Homo sapiens: one gene and its partners. The protein of the gene in region 5 purifies or fractionates together with the protein of the main gene of each other region. This does not show direct contact. Each region holds a gene or a part of one and is shown on either strand. Other genes may lie near its edges.

Region 1 (4,131 bases), on a different chromosome or scaffold from region 5:
CACACTGTTCTGAAATGGAATGGGCCACCTCCCTAGGGGGTGAGCGCCCCGCCTCCAGAGGCATTCACACCCGGGCCAAATGCACTTGGCGGAAGCAACAGAACTTTACAGCAGGGGCCGCGTAGCCTGGACTCTGCAGTCGCTGACAGGATTCAAGTCCTGACTGCCACAAGGTATCTTTAGGCAGCTATTTAACCTCTCCGCGCCTTGGCCTGCTCCTCTGTAAGTGGAGAGGATAGGAGTACCCACCTCAGAGGCATGTAGCCAAGGCTTGAGAAATGGCAGCCAGCACGATCAGGGTTCCCTCCCGCCCCAAGTTTCTGCAGCCCTGGAAGGCCGCCTGTCAGGCCAGCAAGGAGGTGGTTCTGCCTGGGCTCTGGGGAAGAAGGTCCAGAGCCTCCGGCCGAGAGGAGACAGGGCATGGGTGGCGCTTGCCCCACAGACCCTGTATGCACCCACTCTCCCCCTTTCAGATTCTCCCAGATGCTTCAGGACAAGCCCCTGCGCACATCGTGGCAGCGGAAGATGAAGGAACGACAGGAGAGGAAGCTGGCCAAGGACTTTGCCCGTCACCTGGAGGAGGAGAAGGAGAGGCGCCGCCAGGTGAGGGGCCAGCCAGGCTGAGGCTGGGGCTCAGAGGACTAAGCTAGTGTCTACTGGTACAGACCTGAGGCGAGGGCCTCCACGGGTGCCTGGGGGAGGCCGACTTGGTTAAAAAACGTTCTTGAATCTGAAGGCCGGAGGGAGGAAGGGCACCTGGCCAGAAGCAGAAGTGCAATCTGGGACTACAGGGCAGGGAGGCCCAGGGGACCATACAGTTTAGCCTGGGCTGCTGAAAGAGCCTCAGGGACAGGGACGGAGGGGGAGGACCAGAAGCGGGCCTTGGGGAGAAGCCCGGGAGGAAGTCCTGGGTGGTAGGGCAGTCAGTGAGATGGGGTCGAGGGCCCTTTGCTGGGACGTACTCAGTTGGGAAGGGCTTGCAGATTTGAACTCCATGTCCCCGGTATGGCTGCTGTCATTCTCCAAGAAGCAGCCCACACACCAGCAACGTGGATGGCCCCCGCACCTTTCCTCCACTTCTGTCCCCTGTCACCCATCCCAGAGCCAGGAAGCCCCTGTAAAGGGTCACAGCCTCACCCACATCTGCCAGGGACTTTTAAGCGGGGGGAAGAGGGCACTCAGCAGGCAGCATGCAGAGAAAGCGGAGTGGCATTGGTCAGCTCCTGCCCCCCAGGGCAGGGCAGTCAGTGGGAGATTCCTCCTCCACTCCTCTAATGACCCAGGCGTGTAGGAGGAGTGCCGAACGGGATTCAGACAACTCATCCATAGTCCGTGGTCCCAGGCTGGCCACTGAGAAAAGGGGTGGGCCAGTCACTCAGTCATCTGTCCCCTGCTCTAAGTCACCCCAGCTCAGCTTACAGCTGACATCTGAGGAACAGTGTGTCCGCCACCATATGCTGAGGCCTTATCTCTTTTCCTGTGTGGCCCTGGCTCCCTCTTGGGCAAGACAGAGCTGCCGTCTCACTTCTCACCGTCCACTGCGGAGGTGCTCCTGCCCAGCCCCCAGCCCGGGCCTGCCCTGACCACAGGAGGCCAAGGCTCACTTCTCCTTCCTCCCCAGGGGCCTGGGCCACCCCTGCTACCCCAAGTCACCAAAGCCAGCAGAGACTCCTAACCATGCAGCAGCCTTGGAGCTGACGTCCCCACCCTGGCCTTGCTGAGGGACACAGTCAGCATGGCTAGAGAGCACTGGGCTTCCCCTCCCAAGACAGACTCCATCTAGAGTCTCAGTGTGCCCAAGGAGCTAGGGGCTGCTCCAAGTCCTGCACGTGCATTCCCTCATTGATTTCCCAAAACTATCTTACGAGGTAGATACTGTGGTCACTGTCACTTTAAAGATGAAGAAGCTGAGGCACAGACTTAGCTAAGGTCTCCTGTTTAGGAAATAACAGGATCCAGATTGAAACCCAGCCCAGATAGCTCCAGAGCCTTTTCTGTGCAGTGCAGCCCCTGCCCAGCCCCACACCTGTGAAAATCTCAGGGACCCAGCCCTCACCCCTAGCCTGGCATTCTGCAGCAGCAGGACTCCAGGGGAAGAGGGGGAGACTGTCGGAGAGGGTGGGAATGGGGGAAGGGCCAGCACCCCTTTCTCCCTTGGCAGTTGATGAGGGTGGCATGAGGGGTCACTGTCTGCATGTGCGTGAATCTCCAGGTGGGCACCCCCAGTGTCTCAGCCCCTGTCCTCAGTTGCCTGTCCCATACCCACCTCTCAACATGCTATCAGGAGCTTCCACCACAGCAGGCCCCTGGCACTAGACCGTGGCACAGGATTGCTAGCCCTCCACCCACACATCACCAACCTGGAGCCTGGCAGAGAGGGCCTTTCCCCTTCCTCCTGGGAATTCTGCCCGCTCGCACTCTTCTGGGGCCTGAGAGACCAGGGCTGCCTCTGCTCCCCGACTCAAATCCCCTTCTCCCACATGTTCCAGGAGAAGAAACAGCGCCGGGCTGAGAACCTGAAACGCCGCCTGGAGAATGAGCGGAAGGCAGAGGTCGTCCAAGTGGTGAGTGTCTCGTTTTCCCCCTCTGCCCTTCTGCCCCACTTGGGGGTGCAAACCAGGGCCTCGACCCCTGCCTCATGTACCCCCACTCTCATGCTACGATCTCAGGCCCCTGTGGGGCGGCCTTCCTCTCCCCTGGGAATTTGGACCGAGGCTGCAGCTGCACTAATGTCCTCCCCTCATACCACCCCCAGATCCGAAACCCCGCCAAGCTCAAGCGGGCAAAGAAGAAGCAGCTGCGCTCCATTGAGAAGCGGGACACCCTGGCCCTGCTGCAGAAGCAGCCGCCCCAGCAGCCGGCAGCCAAGATCTGAGCTCAGGACGGCCCGAGGCCTTCCATGGCCAACAACCATGTCAGACACAGCACCTCAGGCCGCTGCTCAGATGCCTCTGCTGGAGCTGGCACTCCAAACCCATGGCTCCAGAACAGGGACCCCCACCCCGACCGGGGCTCCTCGGCCTTTGAAGGCTTCCAGGCAGGTCTGTGTGGGACAGAAGCCCAGAGGGGGCCTGGGACCTGGCAGAGATGGGGGCGGGAAGAGATTCAGCTCCCATCCCTCCTTCCTCTCCTTCTCCAAGTGCCTTCAAACCAAGAACTGTACATTCTTCTGGTTCCTCAGTGAGCTGGTGACTGGCAGGTGACTCCCTCAGCAGTGTATGCCCTTTCTCAGCATCCTAGGTCCATCCCAGGCCTGGAGGCTGACAGTTGGGAATCCAGCTTCCCCCACACCTTCCCAAAGGCTGCTCTGAGCACCTCCACACCCCACTGCCTCTGTCCCCAGCAGACTGAATCCGGTTCCTCTCCACTTTTCAATACTGAAAGATTAAAATGGGGAGGTTGCAGGGAGCAGAGCTTTTCCCTAGCACCCACTTTCCCAAACCAGTCTCTGCAGAAGCCCCAGAGAATCTAACTCATGCCTGTCCAGTCTACAGCAAAAATATTTATTGAGTGCCTGTTGCATACAGGCACAATCCTAGGCACCGGCAAATACAGACAATAGACCAAAGTCCCTGCCCTCGAGGAGCTTTCATTCTGATGGAGAGAAAACATAATAAACAAGCAAAATGCACCACGTGTCCAATGGGGGAAGTGCTATGAGTAAAGGGGGAAGGGATGGGAGGGAGCAGGGGCGAGGTGTCAACACAGGGTGGCTCTGCAGCTAGCTGGGCACCTCACTGTTCCCTTTGCTCAGCACCTGCTGTGGGCCAGGCCTTCAGTGACCCTGGCCTTTGGTGGCAGAAAAAACACAGGACCAAGATCTCAAGAGTTTCTCATCTGCTTCTTCCACTGACATTTCATCCACCAAGCAAAATTCATTGACACCAACTTTTCGGTCCCTGGGCTGCAGAGCTCAAACACAGCAGTCTCTGACCCCAAGTCCACGGCAGGTGGAGGAATGAGACGGGGTGCAGTGGAAGTGATAGGTCAGAGGTGCAAGTTACCCCTCCCATCCGCAAAAGGGAAATGGTAGCTGCCCAGCCCCATGTGGCCTGGAGGCGGGGCTGCACAGATCTTGGGATTACCAGTGCCCAGAGGGATCCCACAGAACACCAGGCCGACAGGGAGGCT
Region 2 (4,396 bases), on a different chromosome or scaffold from region 5:
TCTGGAGTAGCTGGGACTACAGGCGCCTGCCACCACGCCCAGCTAATATTTGTATTTTTAGTAGAGATGGGATTTCACCATGTTGGCCAGGCTGGTCTCGAACTCATGACCTCAAGTGATCTGCGCACCTCAGCATCCCAAAGTGCTTGGATTACAGGTGTGAGCCACTGCACCCAGCCTAGCATAGGATTTTAAAAATCCAGTTGAGAAGTTTTCATGTATTTAATATATGTTTTGACAAAATTTAAATTTATATATGCTCTATCAGGAACACAGCTTGGGCTCAGAGATTCTGCCAAGGGCAAAAGGGAAGTAGGCCGTAAGACAGATAGCTCCTAATCTTTTTCCAAAGGACTGACTCCATTTACAATGGAGTGTGGAGAAGTTCAAACCTAAAGGTGCTTTCAAGAATAGTGAGGTTGTGGGGAAAGGGAGATTACAGGATTAAATGAAGATGTAGTTTAGACTGTTGGCCAACTAGTTTGCAGGAAGCAAACCAAGGAATAAGATCACTAGGAAGTTCCTTTTTGGGATTAGAATGAGTATTAAACTGGGATCTCAGAAACTATTGCTTCAAAGAAGCCATACTTTGGTTGGATTAGTTTGTAAAGGAATTTACTCTCCAGAGCATTGTTGAAAACAATTCAGCAATCAACCATGGGCATACCTAAAGCTGTACCTCCCAGAGGAGCAACAACAGAGGCTTAAAATCGTAGGAGGGAAATAGACTTCACTAAAATATTCTAGCCAGTCACTAAAAATTAAACCAGCAAATAACAATAAGAAGCCCCTGAAAGGGGAGAATCAGTACCCAGAGTTGTTACAGTATGTTATCCAAAATGTTCAGTTAACAACAAAAAAGTCACAAGGCATGCAAAGAAACACTTAAGTATAACCCATACACTGGAGAGAAAAAGCACAAACTGCCTATGAGTGAGAACAGATGTCAGATTTAACAGAAAAGGAGTTCAAAATAGTCATTATAAGTATGTTCACAGAAATAAAGGAATGCACAATTAAAGCAGTAAAGGAAGGTATGATGACAATGTCATATCAAATTGAGAACATCAATAAAGAGATAAAAAATTATATATATAAAAAGAACCAAATGGGAATTCTGGAGTTGAAAAGTATACTAATTGAAATTAAAAATTCACTAGAGAAGCTCAACCATAAACATGAACTAGCAAGAGAAAGAACTGATGAACTTGAAGACAGACTGACATTGATTATGCAAGCTGAAAACAGAGAGAACGATAAATGAAGAAAAGTGAACAGAGCCTTGGAAAAATGTGGGACACCATCAAGGGTACCATATACATATAATGAGAATACCAGAAGGAAAGGAAAGAAAGAAAAGAGCAGAAAAAATATTCAAAGAAATAATGGTAGAAAACTTCTCTGATTCATTAAAAATCAATAACCTCTACATGCAGGAAGCTCAATGGCCTCCAACTATTAGAAAATAAACACAGAGATGCACAAAATAGACATGTTGCAATAAAAATGTTGAAGGTCAAAAGACAAAGAGAAAATCATGAAAGGAGTAAGAGAAAAACAACTTATCACTTACAGGGGGGAACCCCAATAAAATTAATGACTGATTTCTTCACAGAAACAATGGAGGGCAGAAGGTAATGACATATATATTTAAAATACTCAAAGAAAAAAATAGGGCTGGGCGTGGTGGCTCATGCCTGTAATTCCAGCACTATGGGAGGCCAAGGCGGGCAGATCACGAGGTCAGGAGATCGAGACCATCTTGGCTAACACAGTGAAACCCTGTCTCTACTAAAAATACAAAAAATTAGCTGGGTGTGGTGGCACACACCTGTAGTCCCAGCTGCTTCGGAGGCTGAGGCAGGAGAATCACTTGAACATGGGAGACAGAAGATGCAGTGAGCCGAGATTGCGCCACTGCACTCCAGCCTGGGTGACAGAGTGAGACTCCATCTCAAAAAAACAAAAAACAAAAAACAAAAAAAAAACAACAAAAAATAGTTAACCAAAAATCCAGAAAAGCTATCTTTCAAAAATGAAGGTAAAATGAAAACTTTCTCAGACAAACAAAACTGAGAGAATTTGTTGTCAATAGACCCGCCTCACAAGAAATACTAACAGTTCTTCAAGTTGAGGCAAGTATCCCTGGATGGTAATTTAAATCTACATGAAAAAACAAAGAGTACTAGTAAAGGTAATTGAGTAATTATTTTTAAAAATCCACATTTATATTGGACATTTATTTATTTGAAAACCAGTACAAAAGTATTGTCTCTTCTTTTCTCTGAAATGATTTAAAAAGCAGTTATATAAAATAATATGTATATGATATAATGTTGGGCATGTCACCTACAAGAAGGTAATATGTATGTAATATATTTGCCAATAACAGCACAAAGAAGATTGGTGGGAGCGTAATTGTGCTGTGCTGAGAAAATGACTACAGACAGTAAAGTAATACTTGTAACAAGTATAGTTGGGTATATAACATTAATAGATATAATATGTATAACAATACTATAAAAAGGAGGAAAGGAATAGAGCTATATAAAAGTAATACTTCTATGTATCTGTCTTAGTCTGTTTTCTGCTATAACAGAATGCCACAGACTAGGTAATTTATAAACAACAGAAGTTTATTTGTCTCATGGTAATGGAGGCTGGGAAGTCCAAGAGCATGATGCTGGCATCTGCGTAGTGTCATCTCATGGTGGAAGATGGAAGGCAGAAGTGGGCACGATACAGAGAGAGGTACCAGCTGCCAGACTTATTTTATAATAACTCATTCTTTTTTTTTTTTTTTTGAGACAGTCTCACTCTGTTGCCCCAGCTGGAGTGCAGTAGCGTGGTCTCAGCTTACTGCAAGGTCTGCCTCCCTGGTTCATGCCATTCTTCCACCTCAGCCTCTGGAGTAGCCGGGACTACAGGTGACCGCCGCCGGCTAAGTTTTTGTTTTTTTGTATTTTTAGTAGAGACAGGGTTTCACCATGTTAGCCAGGATGGTCTCGATCTCTTGACCTTGTGATCCGCCTGCCTCGGCCTCCCAAAGTGCTGGGATTACAGGCGTGAGCCACCGCGCCCGGCCTAATAACTCATTCTTGCTATAACTAACCCACTCCCATGCTAGTGACATTAAACCATTAATAAGGGCTCTGCCCTCATGATCGAATTACCTGTTATTAGGCCCCATCTCCTAACACTGTTGCATTGGAAATTAAATGTCTAATACATGAACTTTGGGGGTAAACATTCAAACCATAGCAATATTGCTGGAATTAAGCTAATATAAATCTGAAGTTGTTCATAAACCCCAAAGCAATCACAAAAATACTACATTAGAAAATATTCACTTAATGACTAAATGCAAATGAAAGCATAAAGTAAGAACAGAAGAAAAAATAGACATTGAGAAATACAGACATCCAAAAGTAGAATAGAGTTAGATGTAATTCTCAGTATATAGACAATAAAAATAAATGTGAGAGAATAAAGCAGTCCAATCAAAAGACAGAGATTGTCAGACTTGATTAACAAACAGGATCCAAATATATTCTGTCTGCAGGAGAGGCACTTTAAATTCAAAGACACAATAAATGAAAAGTAAAAGGATGGAAAAAGATGATCTTGCAAACAGCAACTACAAGAAAGGTGGAGTGGCTATGTTAATAGCTTACAAAACAGACTTTAAAGCAAAAAATATTACTAGAGATAGGGATATTTCTTAATGATAAAAGGGTTAATCTGCCAGGAAATGATAACAATTAAAAACACATATGTACCTAATAATAAGGCACCAAAATACACAAAGCAACAACTGACAGAAATGAAGGGAGAATTAGACAATTCAATAATAATAGTAGGAGACTACAGTACCTCACTTTTAATGGTAGAACAACTAGACAGAGGATCAACAAGGAAATAAAAGACTTGAACAACACTCTAACCAACTAGACCTAATAGGTGTCTATAGAACACTCCACCCAACAACGAACTATACATACTTCTGAAGTACACATGAAACATTTTCCAGGATATAGACCATACTAGGTGATAAAAGAAACCTCAATACATTTTTTTTTTTTTAAGACAGAGTCTTGCTCTGTCGCCCAGGCTGGAGTGCAGTGGCACAATCTTGGCTCACAGCAACCTCCGCCTCCCAGGTTCAAGCGATTCTCCTGCCTCAGCCTCCCGAGTAGCTGGGACTACAGGCACCCGCCACCATGCTCCCTGACTAATTTTTGTATTTTTAGTAGAGATGGTGTTTCACCATGTTGGTCAGGCTGGTCTCGAATTCCTGACCTCAGGTGATCTGTCCACCTTGGCCTCCCAAAGTGCAGGGATTACAGGCGTGAGCCACTGTGCCCAGCCATAAACCTCAATAAATGTAAAAAGAAAG
Region 3 (4,035 bases), on a different chromosome or scaffold from region 5:
GTCCTCCATTAACTCAAGCAGCAGAGCATATTCTATATACATCAAACGAAATGCTAAACCATCACAGCTACGCTTATGTACCACTACCTTTCTACCCCACATCCTCACGCCCTCACCTGTTTACCCTCACGTCCTTACCACCTGCTTCTTTGTTTGATCACCAATAAATAGTGTGGGCTCCCAGAGCTTGGGGCCTTCACAGCCTCCAATCTGGCACTGGCCCTCTGGACCCACTTTATGCACTTTTTTTTTTTTGAGGCCCAGTCTTACTCTGTCACCCAGGCTGGAGTGCAGTGGTGCGATCTCTGCTCACTGCAAGCTCTGCCTCCCGGGTTCACACCATTCTCCTGCCTCAGCCTCCCAAGTAGCTGGGTCTACAGGCGCCCGCCACCACACCCAACTAATTTTTTTCGTATTTTTAGTAGAGACGGGGTTTCACGGTGTTAGGATGGTCTCAACCTCCTGACCTTGTGATCCGCCCGCCTCGGCCTCCCAAAGCGCTGGGATTACGGGCGTGAGCTACCGTGCCTGGCCCACTTTATGCACTCGTCTTTTCTCATTCCTTTGACCCTGCTGGACTTTGTAGCCCCCATGGCCTGGTGTTGGGCCTGATCACCCCAACAGTGTGCCACTGTGTCCAGCTCATTTTTGTATTTGTAGCAGAGATGGGGTTTCACCTTGTTGGCCAGGCTGGTTTCAAACTCCTGGCCTCAAATGAACCGCCCACCTCAGCCTCGCAAAGTGCTGGGATTACAGGCATGAGCCACTGTGCCCAGCCTTGGATCATGATGTTTAATCTTAACAGTCTTACAAGCAAAGTACTATTGTTGGCCCCATTTCCAGAGATGAAAATGAAGGCTTAGAAAAGTATCTAGTCTAAGACCACAGAGTTAGGAAATAGTGGAGCCAGGATTTAAAGCCAGGCAGTCTGACTTGGAATGTCTGTTCTTAACCACTCTGTTACACGCTACCAGGACTCAAAGAACCCAAATGCCAGTCTCTCCTTTTCAGGTCATCTCTGTAGTGTTAAATAAGGGGGAAAAAGGTCAAGCCTCTCCCCTCCCCTGATGGTGATCCCATTAATTCTGGGGGAAAAAAAAACAAAAAGCCAAAATAATCCTATACTATTTGATGTTACTTTTCTAATTCAAGAAAACAAACTTGCTATTAACATATAGTGCAGAGAAAGTCATATAATATAAAGTACTGAGAAACAAAAAATTTGCTTTCAGCATTACTAGGCTCATTTTGGACTAAATGAATATAGTATATCCCAGCTCAGAAATCAACAATTTCTGAAAAGTTAAAAACTTCAACACAAACAATATATATTTTATCTAATATTTTATTTACTGATCTCTCTGAAACATGCCAAAATTCATATAGCTAAGGGAACTTACCATGCTAAAATGCTGTTCAACATGACAAATTTATACAAAACATATTTCAATGTAGTGCCTTCATTTCATTCTTGAGGAATCAACATTACATTTAGGTGGTGAAATACAAATATAATTATCAAATATCGTACTTCTAGTTTACTGGAAAACATAACAGTTGTGACAGTCACACCTAACACCTTGGTTAATTAAAGACAGAAAATGGGCAGGGGTGTCACAGAAGTATGCAAGGATTTGACAGTTCAAACTAATCCATAGCCCTTCTGAGAAACTACAGATGGAAAATATGTAGTAAATATTTCTGTAATATGGTGGTTTCAGTACATTATAGCACAGTGATCATCATTCCATTCATACACTCAAATAACTGCTGCTTCTGATCACTGAAAACTAGATTCAAAGTCATTGCTCAACAAGCTGATACTACAAATCCCTTATATTAACAGGTAGTTTAAATGTGGAAATAAGGCAAAGCATACTTGTTAGTCACAATTACTTTCAGATATAATTGAGACTACACTGCTATACATAATTAGGTACACAGTATGTATAACAATGCATACTATGGTGTGGAGTTAATTCCAATTACCATATTTTATATTTATTGGTCACAACAGCATACATTTTATGCTCCAAAATACATGGATCTGACAAAATGGTTACATTTAATGTTCTTTTAAAGAAAGATGAACTAAATTTAAGAAGAATTGGTTTTTCCTAATATCTCATTTTCAAATTACTGATACAAATTTGCCAGAGAAACAATTACATGTTTTACCTAACATCAAATAATCTCCAGTTTCTAAGACAGATGCATTTCTTGTTCAATTTCCAAAAGTAAATAAAGGCTTTCTAACTGAAAACATTTGCATCCCTAGCTCTCTAAAGTAATTAAAAAGAAAATTACAAAAAATGACCTCTAAGCTTCTGAACAGCCCACTTAGTTACATAAAGTACTTTCTGTCCCAACACTTTCTCTAATTCAAAAGATATTTACTTCCTAAGTACACGACAAAGTCTTCATTTCAAACCATTCACTCAGTTTCCATGGTAACATTGCGGGCTTCCTTGGCTACCATAAGTCGCATTAGTTGACTGTGGAATTTCTCAATCTTCTTTACATCTTGAGCTTGGTCTGTTTTATACACCAAACACTGTCAGAAATTTTAGAAGTACATATTAACTATATAAAACTAGATACTGACAATGTAGAAAACATACAATTGGGTAAAATTTTGAGAGTTTTTCCTACCACTGTTTTGCTCTATTCTCCTTGGAGGTCGTACTAGGGAAATTGCACTCAAGTTTCCAAGCCTCCAGCAATTCCATGTCTTAAAGTACAGTAATTTAAATGCCACTGCTGTGGACAAAAAACTGAATGAAGTCTATTAGAAGCTTCTGAAAAATGTTAAATGTTAAATCCTGCTATGGTCTGATGAGAAGAACTCAAGACTTAGAATTAGATATTTTCTTCCTTCGAATTAGGTATTAGATTATCTCCCTACATATTTTCTCCCAGCCATAAGTAACTGAGTTATGCTGGAAAAAAAAACACAGAAATCTTAAGATCTCTTTTTCTACTGGTGAAATTGGGGGTTTGATAATAATTTTTAGAAAAAAATCTAGAATTCTCTGTGTATAGCTGGTCAACACATAAACCAGGTAAATCTTGATTTTCTTGGCCAGGCGTGGTGGCTTACGCCTGTAATCCCAGCACTCTGGGAGGCCGAGGCAGGCGGACCACCAGGTCAGCAGTTCGAAACCAGCCTGGCCAATATGGTGAAACCCCGTCTCTACTAAAAATACAAAAATTAGCTGGGCGTGGTGGCGTGTGCCTGTAATCCCAGCTACTTAGGAGGCTGAGGCAGGAGAATCGCTTGAACCCAGGAGTGAGGGCTGCAGTGAGCCAAGATCATGCCACTGCACTCCAGCCTGGGCGACAGAGTGAGATTCCGTCTCAAAAAAAAAAAAAAAAAAAATCTTGATTTGCTGAAGGTATGTATTTTTGAGACAGTGTCTCACTCTGTGGCCCAGGTTGGGGGTGTAGTGGTGCAATCTCAGCTCACTGCAACCTGCGTCCTGGGCTCAAGCGATCCTCAGCTTCCTGAGTAGCTGGGACTACAGGCACACACAACCACACCTAGCTAATTTTTCTATTTTTAGTAGAGACGGGGTTTCTCCATGTTGCCCAGGCTTGAAGATATTACTTTTAAATCAAACCAAATTCTTCCTTGTTAGCAGTTAAATTCTTCACTAGATACTTAAGATCTGCTTATGGTTGGTCATAAAGCCATCTGTTGTAGAATCTTCAAAAACAGCAACTTTAAGCTGGCAGCCCTTTCCTCATTTTGTAGTACAGATCCACTTTTCTTCAGCCCATCTTAAAGGTTCACATGAGTTTTAAACAACAGGAACTAATGATCCTATAATAAAAGTCAACAACTTAAATAACTTGAAGTTCAACCTCATCATGCCCAACTGATTTTTTTAAGTGAGCCTTTTAAACAACTCACTTAAAAAAATTTTTATCCACGCATTGTACAAATTTGTGCGGCAATCTTGTAAAAAGGCCATATTAATCTTCATCATCAAAATTTTAGCACATGTCCTATGAGAGAATGTACATACCTTCTCA
Region 4 (4,396 bases), on a different chromosome or scaffold from region 5:
ACCCTGATCTCAGACTTCCAGCCTCCAAAACTGTCAGAAATAAATTTCTGTTTTTTAAGCCATCCAGTCTATACTATTTTGTTATGGCAGCCTGAACTATGATGAGGGGAGACTGATGCATTAACTTCAAAAACCAGAATTTTATCACTCAAATTTTAACTAAATTGCCCATTTAAAATAAAAAAGCCCAAATATTCACCACACTCCTAGTTCCAAGTGAATCAGCATCCACAAAATATAAACCTTAAAAAAATTTAGTCACTTCCTTCCCTCAATCCACTTGATTTTTTAAGACTACTGAAAGTACTAGTCATTTACATACTTCTCCTTAAATAAACTTAATACAAATGAGAATCACACAATGTTTGAAGTAGAAAATCATTTTATATTTAAAAGAATGTGGTCAATATGAAATAATTTGGCCTGGATATGTTGGACCCTGTCCTTTTCCATGTCAATAACTTGAATAAAGACTTGGAAAGTAAACATGGCATATGAAATAATATATACATCTGAAGGAGTACCAATGTATTCCATGACCAAGATTTTTAAAGGTCTTAGAATGCTAGGCAGAATTAAACAATTAGTTATACAGTCATATTAACAGTTCAGAAACTGGATTTCATAAATGCAGAATACAGACCCAGACTGTCATGTGAAAAAGGTTCTAGCTGTGACAGCTAGTAGTGTGACAATACTGCTTTATAAAATTTTAATAGAAATCTAATGCACAGATTTGGAGTCATAACAGTTCCACTGAATTTTATGTTTGTCACAGTATGTTTAGAGTATTATGCTCAACTCCAGGCTTCATGAAGACAAACATTAACAAACGACTGAATGCAAAGGAAAAACTGTTCAGTTTATCCATAAGTGAGTAAGTTACATTAAACTAAAACTTATAGCATTACTTTAACAATTTGCCAAATAACCCAAAGAGCTGTGAAATGACGTGTAATTTTGCTAAAGCACAAAATGTAACTAACATGCCATGAGGTATGCATCTAGAAAATAAGCTTGGATATCCCTCACCACTCCTAATGCTGAGACCCCAGGCCCAGAGCTTTGTTTTCTTTTAGGGGATACAATAACTCTTACAAAGAGAAATCTGTTTCTTTCTTGAGGGAGGGGGGCAGGGTGGGGAAGAGCAGTGAAGAGGAGGCCAAATCCTAGTGTAGATCACGGAAGGCGAAAGTGAAGAGGTTTGAATGCTAAATACGGAAATTTGTAAGATCTTAGGACATATGCTTTGTGAATGTTAAGGGGTGACTGTAGTAACCTACTAATCATCAGATGGATCCAAGCAAAAGCAAGGTAAGCCTGTCAGAAATATTATAAAGATAATTCTTGCTTTGAGTAAGAAGTTGAATTGGCCACTTACAAGGTCTCTTCCATTTCTAGTAGTTAAAATGAACTAGTAATTCTAAGGTCAAATATTTTAAGAGTACATTTGCCACTATAATAGTAAAGCTAAGAATACCACCATATGTTGAATTCTTTTACTACAAATAGCAGTTCGGCAAAAACATCCAAAATGGTCATTTTTTAAAAAACAAAGTGTAATATAAATAAATCTGCTGGAGTTCTAATCAGGATAGTGGAAGGGCTCAGGCTGTTCCTGGAAACTGAAACATGTGAATTAAGTTTCCGGAGTAGGATAAAGCCTTAACAATCAGAACAGAAATGTAGCTATCAAATTTTCTGTACTAAAAACTGCTGTCCTTAAAAAGTACAGCTGTTCTGTCTACCGATTACTTAATGAGGTGATTGCCAGGGCATTCTTTTTAACAACTTATGTATTTTAAAATTGTTAAAATTACACAACTGTTTCTCTTAAAACTGTTTTTGTTTAAATTCTAGCTCTAATATTTAGTAGCTAGGTGACCACAGGCAAATTACTTAATCTCAAATTTTTTACTTCCTCACCTGGGTGGGCTATAATATCTACTCCAATACTATTATAAGATTTAATTAACAAAGTGTGTATAAAGCTCTTAGAATAGTGTAAAGCCTGTAACAAAAACTTATTAAGTGGTAATCAATATTTGCAAAACTAATATATTAAAAAGAAAAACCCAAGCATAGATAATTTCTTCTCTTTTTTTTTGAGACAGAGTCTTGCTCTGTTGCCCAGGCTAGAGTGCAGTGGTAGGATCTCCGCCTCCCAGGCTCAAGCAATTCTCCAGCCTCAGCCTCCTGAGTAGCTGGGGTTACAGGCGCCTGCCACCACAACTGACTAATTTTTGTATTTTTAGTAGAGATGGGGTTTCACCATGTTGGCCAGGCTGGTGTCAAATTCCTGACCTCAAGTAATCCACCCACCTTGGCCTCCCAAAGTGCTGGGATTACAGGGTGAGCCATCGCTTCAGGCCCAAAGCATAGATAATTTCTTAGTCAACCTTTATTTATTATTTTCCTTTTCAACAGTTTTACTCTGTCACCCATGCTGGAGTGCAGCAGTGCCATCACTTTGCAACCCTGAACTTGAGCTCAAGTGATCCTCCTACCTCACCCTTCTGAGGAGCTAGGACTACAAGTACATGCCACCCCATCCAGTTAATTGAACTTTGTTTTTTGCAAGGCCAAAGTATGTTGAATGTTATGAGAGTGAAAGAGAAGTACTTGCTCCAAGATGCTCATCTAGCATTATGAATTATGGTTAATCTTTTGGAGGACCAAAGGGTTGCCTTTAAAAGTCAGAATATTAATTTTAAATTTATTAAGTGTAGAGAATTGGTTAACATCCCTCCGTATCATTGGCCCTCTTCTTCTACCACTGAAATATCCAGTCTTAAGACATGTAAACCTATTTCCTTCCTTCTCTTCTTTTATTATTTTATTTTATTTTATTTAAATTCCCCGGCCAGGCGCAGTGGCTCACGCCTTGTAATCCCAGCACTTTGGGAGGGCGAGGCAGGTGGATCATTTGAGGTCAGTTCAGGACCAGCCTGGCCAACACGGTGAAACCCCATCTCTACTAAAAATACAAAGATTAGCCAGGTGTGCTGGTACACACCTGTAATCCCAGCTACTCGGGCTGCTGAGGCAGAAGAATTGCTTGAACCTGGGAGGCAGAGGTTGCAGTGAGCCAAGATCGCACCACTGCCTCCAGCCTGGGCGACAGAGAGAGACTCTGTCTCTAAATAAATAAATAAATAAATAAATAAATAAAATTAAAAAAATTCCCCTACCCTCTTGCTTTTAATAAGAAACAGGGTCACCTTAATGTTGTCCAGGCCGGAGTGCAATGGCTATCCCACTACTGATCAGCATGGGAGTTTTAACCTGCTCTGTTGCCAACCTGGACCAGTTCACCCCTCCTCAGGCAACCTGTTAGTCCCCCACTCCCAGGACACCCTATTGATGCTGAATTTAGTGCAGACACTCAGTCCATATGTAGAACACAGTGCGCTACCCTCCACAACTCCTGGGCTCAAGAGATCCTTCCACCTCAGCCTTCCAAGTAGCTAAGACCACAGGCACATGCCACAACACCCAACTCCTTCTTTTTCTTTCTCCTACTTTCATTCTTTCTATGTTCAAGTTTGTCATAAATATAACAGTATAATCAAAATATTTTTTCTTTCTAATCAGAAAACAAATCATTCAGCATGGGTAGGCCATTCTTGGCTTTTTCCATCCCTCTTTAATAGTTATTTCTTCAAGAGAATTTCCCTGTCTCCAAAATGCCAGAAGACTCTAGTTCTACAGTTGGGAGATGTTTTATCTTTCTACATTCTGTATCCTAGTTGTGGGGGCTACAAAAATCCATACGTACTAAAACTTAAAGAACTGTACACCACAAATCAAATTTCCAAATATAAACTTAAAATTCACCTGTCTAAAGCCTCCTTTGTTTTCAATGTCCTCTGTTTTCAAAATAAAATGCCACTGTTCCATTTTCCTAACCTTCAGAAGTAACTGTGTACCTTCCCTATTGTGCTTCTTCAATTAAGAGCTATAAAATTTATATAGCTTTAATTATAAAACCTAACATTAAAAAGTTACTTATATATAAAACTACCAGCCACATGACCAAAAATCTAAATTTTAATTTAAACCCCAAAATTACAAAGTTTTTGGGTAAGATTAAATTGTGTTAAGTATTGTTTTACTCTTATCACTCTTCTTTGAAATATGATAAACTATGATATTTAATATAGTTTCTTGATTAATAAAAATATTTAATAAGCTACAATACAGATCTTTAAAGTACACTGGATAAATGAGAATTCTGTACTTGCCCAACCACCTAACCCATCTCAGCAAAAAGTTCAAAGCTTTTTGTTCCTTAGTGACCATTTCTCCAATTTCCCAATTGTTTTTGATGTTGTTCTAAATGTATCCTTAATATGTCTCCTTAAGGAGTCTTTCAGAGCATCCATTGCTCTCCATA
Region 5 (4,441 bases):
GTTCTGGGGCTGCCTTAGAAGGGGGAAGGTGCTCCTAGTTGGTGAAGGTGGGAACGTGGGTTATTCCTAAAAGTGGGCTGATGGTCCCAGGGGCAGCTGAAGACCTGATGGATCACATTACCCTCCAGGCTTGTCTCCGGCCTTGAGGCCAGCCCAGCCCTGCAGCCTTCGAGGCCCCCATACTGGCCTCTCCCATACTCTGAGGCCCACAGGCTGCCTGCGAGCTCCCTACTCACCAGGGCCTTCCCCAGTGAAGTCACCCGGCCTCTGTAATCTCTCATACATGTTGTTCTCTCTGATTCCAGATCCTCAGCACCTCCCAGGAGCTGAAGGATACAGACCTGGACTATCTGGAGGTAAAGAGACCTCTGATGTTGGGGCATCCCCCACCCCCACCCTCCCCACTAGGGCTGGACCCAAAGGAACTAGGTGCCCTCCTGGTCTGGCCTAGGGTTTTATGACACTTGAACAGGGTTGAAGGGGGAGGGTGGAGAGTAAAGCAAGAGATGTGTGGTCTGGGGAGAGGCAGGAGAACCCCAGGCTGCAAAAGGGGGAGCCTAGCTCCTACAGCAGGCGTAGGGAGGTGGGGAGACAGGCTTGGGGTGCACCATAGTCCTCAAAGTGGCCCAGCCCTGACGCTTTCTGTGTCCCACCCCCAGATGTTTGTCCACGTGGCCGAGGTGATGGGCAAGCATTATGGGATGGTGCCAATCCAGGTGAGACACCTATCTCTGGATTCATTGGCCCCAGGCCCCGCCACCCCCATTTGCTGGTGTCAGGACCCCTTCTCTTTCAGCATCTGGACCTCTTAGTTCGTGACTCATCCCACCCCAACAAGGCAGGGCAGGGGCATGTAGGCAACATCTTCCAGGTGAGTGGTGCAAGGGGATGGGGTGGAGGGGCCATGGACAGGGCAGAGGTGGGGAAGACATGGGAGGCTGGACCTCCTAGCTCAGAGCACTCCTCTCGCTGCCTCACAGAGATTGTCTGGCAGATACCCCAAGGTGCAGGAGCTGCTGCAAGGGAAGCGAGCCCGTTGCTGCCTCTTGCCTGCCCCAGGGAGGCGGCGGATGAACCAAGGCCATGCAAGCCCTGGTGGTGAGTGTCTCTGAGAGCTGAACCTCTCTTGCGCTGCTCCCAGCTCCCCTCCGGCAACCGAGCCCCTTGAAGCACCCACCTCTCCTGGCCTCTGACACCCCTTCTCCTCCCAAAGCCCGCAGTCTCTCAGCATGCACATCTCTCCCTCAGACACAGATGATGACTTCCGCCACCTTCTGGGGGCCTACGTCTCAGATGTGCTGAGTGCGGCCCCCCAGCACGCTAAGAGCCGCTGCCAGGGGTACTGGAACGAGGGGCGCGCCGTGGCCAGGGGGGACAGACGCCTACTCACGGGGCAGCAGCTAGCTCAGGAAATCAAGGTGTGAAAACTCCCTGGAGACCCAGGCGACTCGGCTGGGCCCCTGCTCTCCCTGACCCCAGCGATGGTATCTCCGCAGAACCTCTCAGGATGGATGGGGAGGACAGGGCCCGGTTTCACCTCTCCGGATGAGGTATGAGCGCTGGGGGATCCAGCATTCTGGCAGGGAGACAGGGGAGGCAGGGAGGTGGGGGCTGTGCCGAGGCCTCCGGGGTGGGGGTCTGTGTGCCCTGGGAGTGGAGATGAGGAAACAAGCAGCGCCCCTGGCTGAGAAGGAAGGAAGGAGGCAGCCTGGGTTTTCCCGTGGACAGATGGCTGCTCAGCTGCACGACCTGAGGAAGGTGGAAGCTGCCAAGAGGGAGTTCGAGGAGTATGTGAGGCAGCAGGTGAGCCCCGGGGCTGCACGGGAGGCAGGTGTGGGCCGGGCAGGGTCCAGATCAGGGAGAGGATACCTGGGACTCCTGGTCAGGGCACCTTCTTTTCCCCTCCCTGTCACAGGACGTAGCCACCAAGCGCATATTCTCTGCGCTGCGGGTCCTGCCAGACACCATGCGGAACCTCCTCTCCACCCAGAAAGATGCCATTCTGGCCCGCCATGGTGTGGCCTTACTCTGCAAGGGGAGAGATCAGACCTTGGAGGCACTGGAAGCTGAGCTGCAGGCCACGGCCAAGGCCTTCATGGACTCCTACACGATGCGCTTCTGTGGCCACCTAGCTGCTGTGGGGGGTGCTGTGGGGGCCGGGCTCATGGGCCTGGCAGGGGGCGTGGTGGGTGCTGGCATGGCAGCAGCTGCACTGGCTGCAGAGGCTGGGATGGTGGCTGCTGGAGCTGCCGTGGGGGCCACAGGGGCCGCTGTGGTTGGGGGTGGCGTGGGTGCTGGGTTGGCTGCCACAGTGGGCTGCATGGAGAAGGAGGAGGATGAGAGGCTTCTGGAAGGGGACCGAGAGCCCCTTCTCCAGGAAGAGTAACAGCCCCAGGAGGTATTGAAGGACAGGAGAGATGTCAGGTGGGGATGAAGAAGAGGGGCAGGTCGGGGGAGGGTGATGCCAGGGATTCCAAGGCACCGCCATGTACTGCACTGCCCTGGTCGAATGCTCGGTGTCTGGGTGGCAGCTGAGCTGGGACTCAAGGTGGCTCTTGGAACCTGGGAGGCAGCATCTGGGGGCAGTGGATAGAACACCCGGCCTGTTTCTGGTTGCAGATGGTTGCCGATCTGCCCTTGTCACAGATAGGCTACATCCCAGGGTTTCTGGCTGCAAGTGAGACTCCACCCTCCCCACCTGGCTCATTTCCCCGATGACCCTGGATTGTAGGAAAGTTAAGCAGGCACCATCCTGGAAGTCTACCCCTAGGTGGTCGAGAGACCTGTTCTTTCACAGATGTGAGAAGCCCCAGGATGATTGACCATGGTGTTCAGGAGCGGGGAGCACTGATGAGGTGCTGGGGATGACAGGAAGGAAGGAACACTGGGCAGAACCAGAGAGATGGGACATGGTAGACTGTGGCCCAGACCCCAGAGCAGAGAAACTTGTTCCCATGACCCTTCCCAAATCTGCTCCAGCAGGACTAAGGTGGCTTTCCCACTCCTGGCCCACAGCCCCAGAGAGCCTGTCTGTGCATCCTGAACCACTCTTTGCTGGGCCTCCGCAAGGGCCTCTCTTGGGTCTGTGTCCTTTTTCAAGCCTGTTTAGATGGGGGAGTGCCCATGCCCTCTGTGAAGTGCCCAAATGCGAAAGAATAACACCTTTTCTTGCATTCTGAGCTAAGCCAGACAGCCTTTATACTAGATTCTATCAAAATCTTGCAAAGGAAAACAAAATGAACAACTTCTACCCTTAAACACATCCTTTCTCCCCTGGGCTTGTAAGAAGATGCAGCTTGATGCAGCTCCTCAAACACCAGGCCCCCTGGGAACTGGGGGTGCGGGAGTTCTCCCTCTGGGGGACAGAAAATCTGACTACTAGGAAGACTTCTAGGCTATGAAACTGACTTCTAGGCTATGAAACTTACAGGGTATGGGTGGGCACATTATCCTTTATTTTATGAAAAATAAAATGTGTGTATGTGAATGTCAGCTTCCCAGTATATTATTGAAACAGAATTTAACCCTCAGATGACTTCATGGTGGGAGCAGGTGAACCAATGAGATCCATTGCTGGAATGCACAGATGGGAAGAGGGAGATTGGAATTCAAGAGATCCAAGGAAGTGAACGTCAGAGGTCCCCATTCAGTGGCTGCAAGAGGCCTCAGGCCAAGGCCAAGTGGATATGGGCACCTTTGCAGGCTCTTCCACTAGGACTTGGGGTTCCGCTCCTCTTGTCTCCTCTCTGAGAAACTGCTTCCCATGATCCTGTCAACAGGCAGTCAACAAGCACCTGTCCCAGCAAGAGGACAGAATGGATACATAAGCAGAGAGAACTTGGTCAAGCCTTGAAGGAAGGAGAAGCCCAGGACCACTTCTGCAGGGCTCAGCCAGCCAGGAGTTCACCCAACTGATTCTCCTCCCAGCCCTGCTCCCCAGCTCCCCAGCTCCCCATCTCAGAACCACAGCAGTAGTCACTGCATCCAATCCTGGCATTTTATAGGTGCACACCCAGAGAGAGAAAGTCTCAGATAAGCCTGTGCAGCTGCTGATGACAGAAGCAGGGGAACCCCGAAGTCCTGGTTCCCAAGCTGGTGCACTTCCTGAAGTTATTTTGTTAAGGTCGACTGTGCTGAAATTGAGATGCTCCTTTTCAGATGCTTCTTCTGGCTGATCAGGTCCAGCTCCAGGGAAGTGTGTGGTGGGCAGAGGCAGCAACGTGGTCTAGAACAGATGGCTCAGCAGTGAAGCTATAGTTAACAGGCTGGGGACAAAATACAGAATGTAGAGAAATCCCAAAGCCAGGGTGGGGTTGAGTGGGGTAAAGACAAATGAGAGTGACTCTCTCTTTTAGGGTCTGAGCCAAGGGTGGGAACAGGGTCTTAACTTTGTGTAGTGTTTGTGGAGAAGGACTTTCTGGAAGCATCTTTCTGAGCCCTT
Region 6 (3,500 bases), about 30 Mb from region 5:
TTCCCTATTTGTAGGTTGTTCCATTTAAGTGTTCTAAATAAAGTGAAGTTGCCTGAGGGGGTGGGAGGATGAGAAATGCTTGTGGAATCCTTATTTAGGTTTGAACTTGGGGTTTTCAGTGTCACAGCTTGTTTTATTTTCAATGTTAATGCAAACTCTCAGACCAAATGCTTCTGTGCTAATATCTGGATCTATGGTATTACAGAGGAATGCAGGCAGTAGTTCAGATGGAACCGAAGATTCCGATTTTTCTACAGATCTCGAGCACACAGACAGTTCAGAAAGTGATGGCACATCCCGACGATCTGCTCGAGTCACCCGCTCCTCAGCCAGGCTAAGCCAGAGTTCTCAAGGTAAAAAAACCTTCATTTTTCCTTACCACTCCTCACATCTGGCTGACTGGCCCATCACATTATTTTCCTAGTTAATGTGGAAACTGGCCCCTTGGCTTGGTGTAGATGACAGTGCACCAGATGATTGGTAAAATGTAGAGTGAATGCAGAGTTGTCAGGTCTTTAACAATGCCTCTGTGGGGGGCTACTATCCAATCTGTAGACCCAAAGGAACTGCGGATGGTATAATGGATAGAGACACACGTATGTCTTGAGTCATTTGTTTGTTTGTTTGTTTGTTTTTTTAGATCGCAGTGTCTCCATCAGTAAAATTGGAATGTTATCCCTTCACTTTCTGTTTGAATGTTTGAGGCTTAGGGACTTGAAGTCCAGATGGTATCTGATTTATGGTGGCTTGATTTAATTTTTTTTTTTAACTTTACAGTGGTGCTAAAACAATATGCATTCAGTGGAAACTTTTAGAATTTTGAATTTCGGTCTTTTCCTGGGCCAGTGATATGTGGGCCAAATATTTTCTCATGTTGCTGAGTGGTGGCAATGAGCCATAATAACTCCAGTCAGTGAGCCGTAACTCCCAGTCAGCCATTTGATCATGAGGGTAAACCAGTACTCTTCAGTGTACTGTCTTTAATAAATTATATGCAATATTCAACACTTTATTAAAAATAGGCTTTGTGTTAGATGATTGTGCACAATTGTAGGCTAATGTAAGTGGTTTGAGCCTATTTAAAGTAGGCTAGGCTAAGCTATGATGCTCGGTAGGTTAGGTGTATAGCGGTTTTTTTTATTTTCTGGAGACAGGGTCTTGTGCTCTGTTGCACAGGTTGGAGTGCAGTGGTGTGATCTTGGCTCACTGCAGCCTTGACCTCCTTGGCTCAAGTGATCCTCCCACCTCAGCCTCCTGAGTAGCTGGGACTACAGGTGCACGCCACCATGCCTAGCTAGTTTTCTTTGTTTTTTGTAGAGATGAGGTCTTATTATGTTGTCTAGGCTGGTCTCAAACTCCTGGACTCAAGCAGTCCTTCCACCTTGGCCTCCCAAAGTACTGGGGTTATAGATGTGAGCCACCATGTTCAGCCTGTAAATGCATTTTTAACTTATAATACTTTCAACTTATGATAGTTTTATTGAGACTTAACCCCATTACAAGTCAAGGAGCATCTGTAGTCTCTTGGACTTACTCTTGGCAGAGGCCCACTTCTAAAACCATGTTTAACTCTGGAATGTAATCCAATAAACACTTGATAGATATTAATAGTTGTACCAAAATATCAGTGTGGAAATAATGGAATTTTGCTTTGGTAATAAGGAATTGAGAATCTTGGGGTTGGAAGGTAGTTTGAACTATCTCTAGTGCATTTAGGCATCTGGGGTTAGATTTGGAGGGTACCCTTGACCCTCCTGGCTCTGCTCTGGTATTCCCTGAGGAGGAAAGAAGGTTGCAGCTAATACAGAAAGCCGATGATCAACAGGTGATAATAGATGAAGGGAAAAAAACTTTAACATGTTTTGAGCACTTCAACAGTGTTGCTTTGGTTAATTTTTTTTTTTTTTTTTTTTGAGATGGAGTCTAGCTCTGTTGCCAGGCGGAGTGCAGTGGCATGATCTTGGTTCACTGCAACTTCCGCCTCCTGGGTTCAAGCAATTCTCCTGCCTCAGCCTGCAAGTAGCTGGGACTACAGGTGCACGCCACCGTGCCCAGCTAATTTTTGTATTTTTAGTAGAGATGGGGTTTCACCATGTTGGCCAGGATAGTCTCAATCTCTTGACCTCATGGTCTGCCTGCCTTGGCCTCCCAAAGTGCTTGGATTATAGGCATGAGCCACCGCGCCCTGCTGCTTTGGTCACTTTTATATGAGTATGTTGCACAATGAGAGAAAAACCATCAGTTTTTCAAGCAAGAAAGTGGGAATATCCTCTTTAACAACTGTTCCTAACTTTATTTTTGAATTTAGGATTTCAGCTAAAGTATTGCTATTGTCTCTTGATTTCTTAAGCTTTAAATTTTTACCACAATGAGACTATGGATAAATAGCTACTATAACTCAAGCAGTATGTTATGTACTAGGAACCATGATAGAAAAATCATAGTTCCTGTCCTCAAAGATCTTACAGTTCAGTGCAAGATACAGATATGAAAATTGATCATGGGAATACATTATGGCAAGGGCTGTGAGAGGGGTTTGCATAGAGTACTACATAAGCCCAGAGGTGGGACAGCCAACTTAGGGCAGCACTCCCACAATGATGAAGTCTTTTTTGTTGTTGTTGAGACAGAATCTCGCTCTGTCGCCCAGGCTGGAGTGCAGTGGCATGATCTTGGTTCACTGCAGCTTCCGCCTCCTGGGTTCAAGGAATTCTCCTGCCCCAGCCTCCCAAGTAGCTGGGATTACAGGCGAGCACCACCATACCTGGCTATTTTTTGTATTTTTAGTAGAGACAGGGTTTCACCGTGTTGTCCAGGCTTGTCTTAAACTCCTGATCTCAAGTGATCTGCCCGCCTCGGCCTCCCAAAGTGCTGGGATTACAGGCGTGAGCCGCCGTGCCCAGCTGCACACTGAGATGTCTTAAAGGCTCTGATAGGAATTTACAAGTTGAAAGATGGGAATATGTTATTCTCGGCAGATGGAACAGCATATGCTAAGGAAAAGACATAATGTTTGTAGGAAGTATAATTGACCATGCCCTAGACACCTGAAAACTAAATATTCAAAACAGCTAGGAAATGCGTAAGCACTGAGTCTCTTTCTGGTTATCATACCTCATGACCACAGAGTTGCACAACTCCAGGGGTACCATTTACAATGTCAGCAATGTAAGGTGGTCCTCCCTAGAGCACAAGGTAGATCATATTGTGAAAGGAGGCCCCTTGGAGATGTACAAATGGATAACCTTGCTCTGTGCTAACTTTTCTCACCCGAAAGTTTGGAAATTTTCAGTTTTCTTCTTTAGAGAATCTATAAGATTTCTTCAGATTTTTTTTTTTTTTAAATATACGTTGGGGGGTGCAGCCGTGAGAGAGTGAGGCTGACACCGCGCCCTGGCCTGTGCATCCCGCCCTCTGAAAAAAAAATTAATTAATTAAAATAAAATATACTTTAGAGAGGATTTTGACTGTTCTCACCACAAAGAAATGACAAGTGTTTG
Region 7 (4,396 bases), on a different chromosome or scaffold from region 5:
AGTTGTTCATCAACTCTTTAGAACTTAATGGAAACATGATAGAAGCAAAACACAAAATTATATGTAATGTATGATTGTAACACCATGAAATAAGAGTGTAAAATGGGCAAAGATTAGATCAGATGGTACATATAGTTGTTTAGGATAGTGAGATTTTTGTTTTGCTATTAATTTTTTGTTTTTGTTTTCGTTTTGTTTTTTTTTGAGACAGAGTTTCACTCTTGTTGCCCGGGCTGGAGTGCAATGGCGCCATCTTGGGTCACTGCAACCTCTGCCTCTCGGGTTCAAGCGATTCTCCTGCCTCAGCCTCCTGAGGAGCTGGGATTACAGGCATGCACCGTCATGCCTGGCTAATTTTGTATTTTTAGTAGAGACAGGGTTTCTCCATGTTGATCAGGCTGGTCTCAAACTGCCGACCTAAGGTCATCCACCTGCTTCAGCCTCCCAAAGTGCTGGGATTACAGGCGTGAGCCACCACACCTAGCCTGTTTTACTGTTAACTTTTTGAACATAGAAGATTAATAATAAACAGTATTTTTGTATCTGCTAAATGAATGTTATAGATAATAAAGGAAATCATTTTGGACTGAAATGGTTAGGGAAGGCTTCAGTGAATTGGTGAGACTTATTCTAGACCTTGAAGGATGGAAGACCAGAATAGGAAGAATTCACAGGGAAAAAAAGAGGTATTCAGTATGCTGAACTTCTAGTAATTTTCTGAAAAATCACAATTCAAATCTTCCCTTCCTTATTTTAGTCTTCATGTTGGATTGAGAACATTTTGTTTACTCTCTGCAAGTGATTTGCTTATAAAGAACATTTGGTTTCAAGATAATCCTTCTGTCCGCCAGTTGTATTAGAGACTTTCGATACAGTGAAGCAGAAGCTGGACATTTCAGGAAAAGAATTGTCCTCACATTGTCCTCAAATGTGTTCCTATGAAAGGATCTTAAAGTACTGAGATTATCTTTGAGAATGGTTTTCCTTGACAGCAGGGAATCTATATTGTTGATTTCTTGGAAATCTCCAGATTTAGCAATGTTTGTGGGAAAGTTTTTCATTAAAACACTTTCCTGAAAAACTCCAGCAACCTTTCATTGCTTTGTCTTAAAGTATTTAACACCCTTGATGCATCTAAAAAACCTGATATATAGGTCTCTTAATAATGTTGTTTGAAGGAGGAGGAAGAAGAGGATAGAGACTTTTCCCAGGATACCCTGCAGTAAGATCTGTAATAGTCTGTTTTTCTGAAGGATGATATCTACCTCTTGGCTGGGTGATTGAAATTAAATTGGGGGCTCAAAGCAATCACATCCAGCTGAGACTCTTTCATGGTGTTTCCAGATTGCTCCCTTAGGGATACTCACAGATTGGGAATCTGTAACATACTGACTTCTCCACCTCTGGGGTTCCCCATCAATAACAGCTGAGATTCTCTAGCACCTTTTGGTTTAAAGTGCTCCACAAACTGAGTTTCTTGCTGCACGCAGGGATCGTTTCAGCTTTCCCGAAAAGGCAGCAGTCTCTGTTGTGGAAAGTGACAGCTGTTTTACAGCTGCAAAAGCAATGTACTACAATATGACTTTGTTTTTGTTTCCTTTCACATTAGTGTATCTCCTAGCTATGGACTAAATAATACATGGGGGGAAATAAACAAGTATTCATGAGGGTGAAAATGTGACCCAGCAGGAAAATTACAACTATTTTCAATTGACGTTGAATAGGGTGAGTAAATTTTAGCTTTTTGAGTTACAATTTGGCTGAGATATCAGAGTTAGTACTGATATAGAAAGATATTTTTGTCATCTATAAATAATTCCTGAGAGTCACTTCTGTAGAATGTTAATAAAAATATATGGTCCCCTAGCATATAAAGAGAAGAGGATTATATTCTGCTAGTGCCATTTTTGGATTACCCTAAGTAAATCTATGTTAGAGGAAAAAATAACTCTTCAGAAGCAGCAAACCTCATCTAGAACAGCTTGTTTAAAAGCCTAGACCTGGCCAAATTTTGCTGTTTCCTTGATTCTTCTTGGTCTGGGTTCCAGCTATAATTTGTGTTTTATATGTGTTGCTGTTTGTATGACATGTTATGGTTTGCAGGAGGTCTCTGAGTAGGTCTGCAACATATATGGTCTAATTGATATTTTTGTAACTTATCTCTTCAATGTGTTGGGTTGGAGAGAATATAGATTTTGGACTCAGACCTGGGTTTCAATGAGAACTCGACATTTATTGGTTAATTTAAGGTTTCTGGACTTAGTTGCCCATTGTCTGTAAAATGGAGATAATTAAGTTAGTGAGGCCAGGCATGGTGGCTCACGCCTGTAATCCCAGCACTTTGGGAGGCCGAGGCAAGCAGATTGCTAGAGGTCAGGAGTTCGAGACCAGCCTGACCAACTTGGTGAAACTCCATCTCTACTAAAAATACAAAAAAAAAAATTAGCTGGGCCTGGTGGTGGGCACCTGTAATCCCAGCTACTCGGGAGGCTGAGGCAGGAGAATCACTCGAACCCTGAAAATGGAAGTTGCGGTGAACCGAGATGGTGCTACTGCACTCCAGCCTGGGTGACAGAGCAAGACACCGTCTCAGAAAAAAAGTCAAATTCACTTAAAGAAAAAGTGTACGTGAAGTGTCTAGTTTAGTGCCCGAATCATTTCAAAGCACCTAGTAAATACTGGATTCTTTTCTTTCTAATTGTATAGTATTATTTTTAAAAATGGTCTAAAATTCTGAATTTACTGATATCCTTATTTGGAGACAGCCTAGGGGGGAAAACACCTAGATTTGAGAATCACTGTTTTAGGATGGAAGTAACAACTATCAGACCAAAACCAAACCTAAACAAAAGAAACTCACTTCATACCAACTAAAAGATACCTTATATTTTGGTAGTGAGATTGTAAACTTATACATTTTAAAATTTTTGTAATATTCTATGAGGTAAATAGAGCAAGTGTTATTGTTTTCACTTTATAGATGAGTCATGGAATTTAAGTGATTTACTGAAGATTATACTACTGGTAGATAGAAGAGCTAAAGGTTTGTCCCAGGACCTTTTTATTTATTTATTTATTTATTTATTTATTTTAAGAGAAGGGGGTCTTGTGATGATCAGGGTGGTCTCAAACTCCTAGACTCAAGTGATCCTCCCACTTCAGCCTCCTGAATAGCTGGGACTACAGGCACGCACCACCACACCCATCTTGTCCCAGGACTTCTGCTCCCTCTCCCGCTTTTAACTGTTCTTTTTGCTTTAAACTATATTACACGTTGATGTTGAGGTAGAATGGAAATTCTTTTGACCATAGCATCACAGATATGTGTGTGTTTGTTCTCTGAATTAACACTTATCAATTTTTTTTTGTGAGCATCATATTAAATGCTACATGCTTGTGTGTGTAATATAGTAGTGCCGCATGTAAGGTTTCTCCCCTCAAATTTATATTCTAGCTGGGACACAGGGCAGAATCATATGGTAAAGTTTAATTCAAGTGCAAAGAGTTTGTATCTGAGTGGCAACTGCCTGAAGCAGTAGGGGAAGGACTGGAGGAAGGGAGTGCAATTGAAGTGAGTGGTGACAACCTGCAAGTGATAAGGGGGTGGGTATGGTAGATACATGAGAGAAGAGTACACAAGGTTTAGTGATTATGCTGTGGGAAGGGGAGGAACCAGAGGTGATTCTGAAGTTTGGAACTGAGCGACTGAGAGAATGATAAAAATAGGGAAATCAAAATTGGAAGTCAGTAGGGTATGGGATAGGGTAGGTCAGTGAGTAGCGTAGTTGATGGACATGAACAGGAAGAGTAGAACAGTGTCAGGAGGCTGAGGCCGGAGAATCACTTGAACCTGGGAAGCAGAGGTTGCAGTCAGCTGAGGTGGCGCCAGTGGACTCTGGCCTGGGGGACAGAGCAAGATTCTGTCTCAAAAAATTAAAAAAAAAAAAATGGACAAGAGAACAGGTTATATTGTAATTTAAGACTTAAAACCCCCCCTAAAAAAGCTTTTTTTTAAACAACCAGTTTTCAACATCCTAGCACCATGAAATTTTCCTTTTTGAATTCTTGGACAGATAGAAGTTTTGCCGTGGTATTGAGCTGTCTTATAGTCTCACGATATATAAGTGAATGCCGAGATGATAGAAAGTAATACCTTATATTAAAACTACTGATTAGAGTCTTCCATTTTTACCTCAGGAGAGCCAAAGGAAATCAACATTTGAATTGACTACCCAATGTCCTGCCCCTGTTTCTGTCCTGTAGCACTTAGGGTATGTTGCCTATTTCATTATATGTTAAATCCATGGCATCTCCATGAATTCCACAGCTCTTCCTGCCGGTTTTAATGCTATCCTTTTAGTTTTGTTCTTAGTTTAGAGAAAGATCTTTGTAATAA

What was found.
Region 1: the proteins of RNF112 (region 5) and CCDC86 purify together in Homo sapiens (affinity purification with mass spectrometry, with the first as the bait; one large-scale study listed by BioGRID). This does not show direct contact.
Region 2: the proteins of RNF112 (region 5) and DHX57 purify together in Homo sapiens (affinity purification with mass spectrometry, with the first as the bait; one large-scale study listed by BioGRID). This does not show direct contact.
Region 3: the proteins of RNF112 (region 5) and SRP9 purify together in Homo sapiens (affinity purification with mass spectrometry, with the first as the bait; one large-scale study listed by BioGRID). This does not show direct contact.
Region 4: the proteins of RNF112 (region 5) and PRRC2C purify together in Homo sapiens (affinity purification with mass spectrometry, with the first as the bait; one large-scale study listed by BioGRID). This does not show direct contact.
Region 6: the proteins of RNF112 (region 5) and KAT7 purify together in Homo sapiens (affinity purification with mass spectrometry, with the first as the bait; one large-scale study listed by BioGRID). This does not show direct contact.
Region 7: the proteins of RNF112 (region 5) and RACGAP1 purify together in Homo sapiens (affinity purification with mass spectrometry, with the first as the bait; one large-scale study listed by BioGRID). This does not show direct contact.

What each region holds. Positions count from the first base shown.
Region 1 is NC_000011.10:60,847,451-60,851,581, forward strand, and holds the end of CCDC86 (coiled-coil domain-containing protein 86), read left to right. Parts: intron 1-473; coding exon 474-603; intron 604-2,489; coding exon 2,490-2,564; intron 2,565-2,755; coding exon 2,756-2,875; 3' UTR 2,876-3,631; downstream 3,632-4,131.
Region 2 is NC_000002.12:38,868,923-38,873,318, forward strand, and holds part of DHX57 (putative ATP-dependent RNA helicase DHX57), read right to left. Parts: intron 1-4,396. UniProt on the Homo sapiens protein: Probable ATP-binding RNA helicase.
Region 3 is NC_000001.11:225,787,759-225,791,793, reverse strand, and holds the end of SRP9 (signal recognition particle 9 kDa protein), read right to left. Parts: intron 2,555-4,035; coding exon 2,435-2,554; 3' UTR 1,330-2,434; downstream 1-1,329. UniProt on the Homo sapiens protein: Component of the signal recognition particle (SRP) complex, a ribonucleoprotein complex that mediates the cotranslational targeting of secretory and membrane proteins to the endoplasmic reticulum (ER).
Region 4 is NC_000001.11:171,491,515-171,495,910, reverse strand, and holds part of PRRC2C (protein PRRC2C), read right to left. Parts: intron 1-4,396. UniProt on the Homo sapiens protein: Required for efficient formation of stress granules.
Region 5 is NC_000017.11:19,413,790-19,418,230, forward strand, and holds the end of RNF112 (RING finger protein 112), read left to right. Parts: intron 1-305; coding exon 306-356; intron 357-659; coding exon 660-716; intron 717-796; coding exon 797-871; intron 872-956; coding exon of another isoform or gene 957-980; coding exon 981-1,098; intron 1,099-1,248; coding exon 1,249-1,418; intron 1,419-1,496; coding exon 1,497-1,550; intron 1,551-1,728; coding exon 1,729-1,803; intron 1,804-1,915; coding exon 1,916-2,386; 3' UTR 2,387-3,487; downstream 3,488-4,441. UniProt on the Homo sapiens protein: E3 ubiquitin-protein ligase that plays an important role in neuronal differentiation, including neurogenesis and gliogenesis, during brain development.
Region 6 is NC_000017.11:49,791,681-49,795,180, forward strand, and holds part of KAT7 (histone acetyltransferase KAT7), read left to right. Parts: intron 1-205; coding exon 206-353; intron 354-3,500. UniProt on the Homo sapiens protein: Catalytic subunit of histone acetyltransferase HBO1 complexes, which specifically mediate acetylation of histone H3 at 'Lys-14' (H3K14ac), thereby regulating various processes, such as gene transcription, protein ubiquitination, immune regulation, stem cell pluripotent and self-renewal maintenance and embryonic development.
Region 7 is NC_000012.12:50,018,391-50,022,786, reverse strand, and holds part of RACGAP1 (rac GTPase-activating protein 1), read left to right. Parts: intron 1-1,609; exon of another isoform or gene 1,610-1,725; intron 1,726-2,980; exon of another isoform or gene 2,981-3,043; intron 3,044-4,197; exon of another isoform or gene 4,198-4,235; coding exon of another isoform or gene 4,236-4,271; intron 4,272-4,396.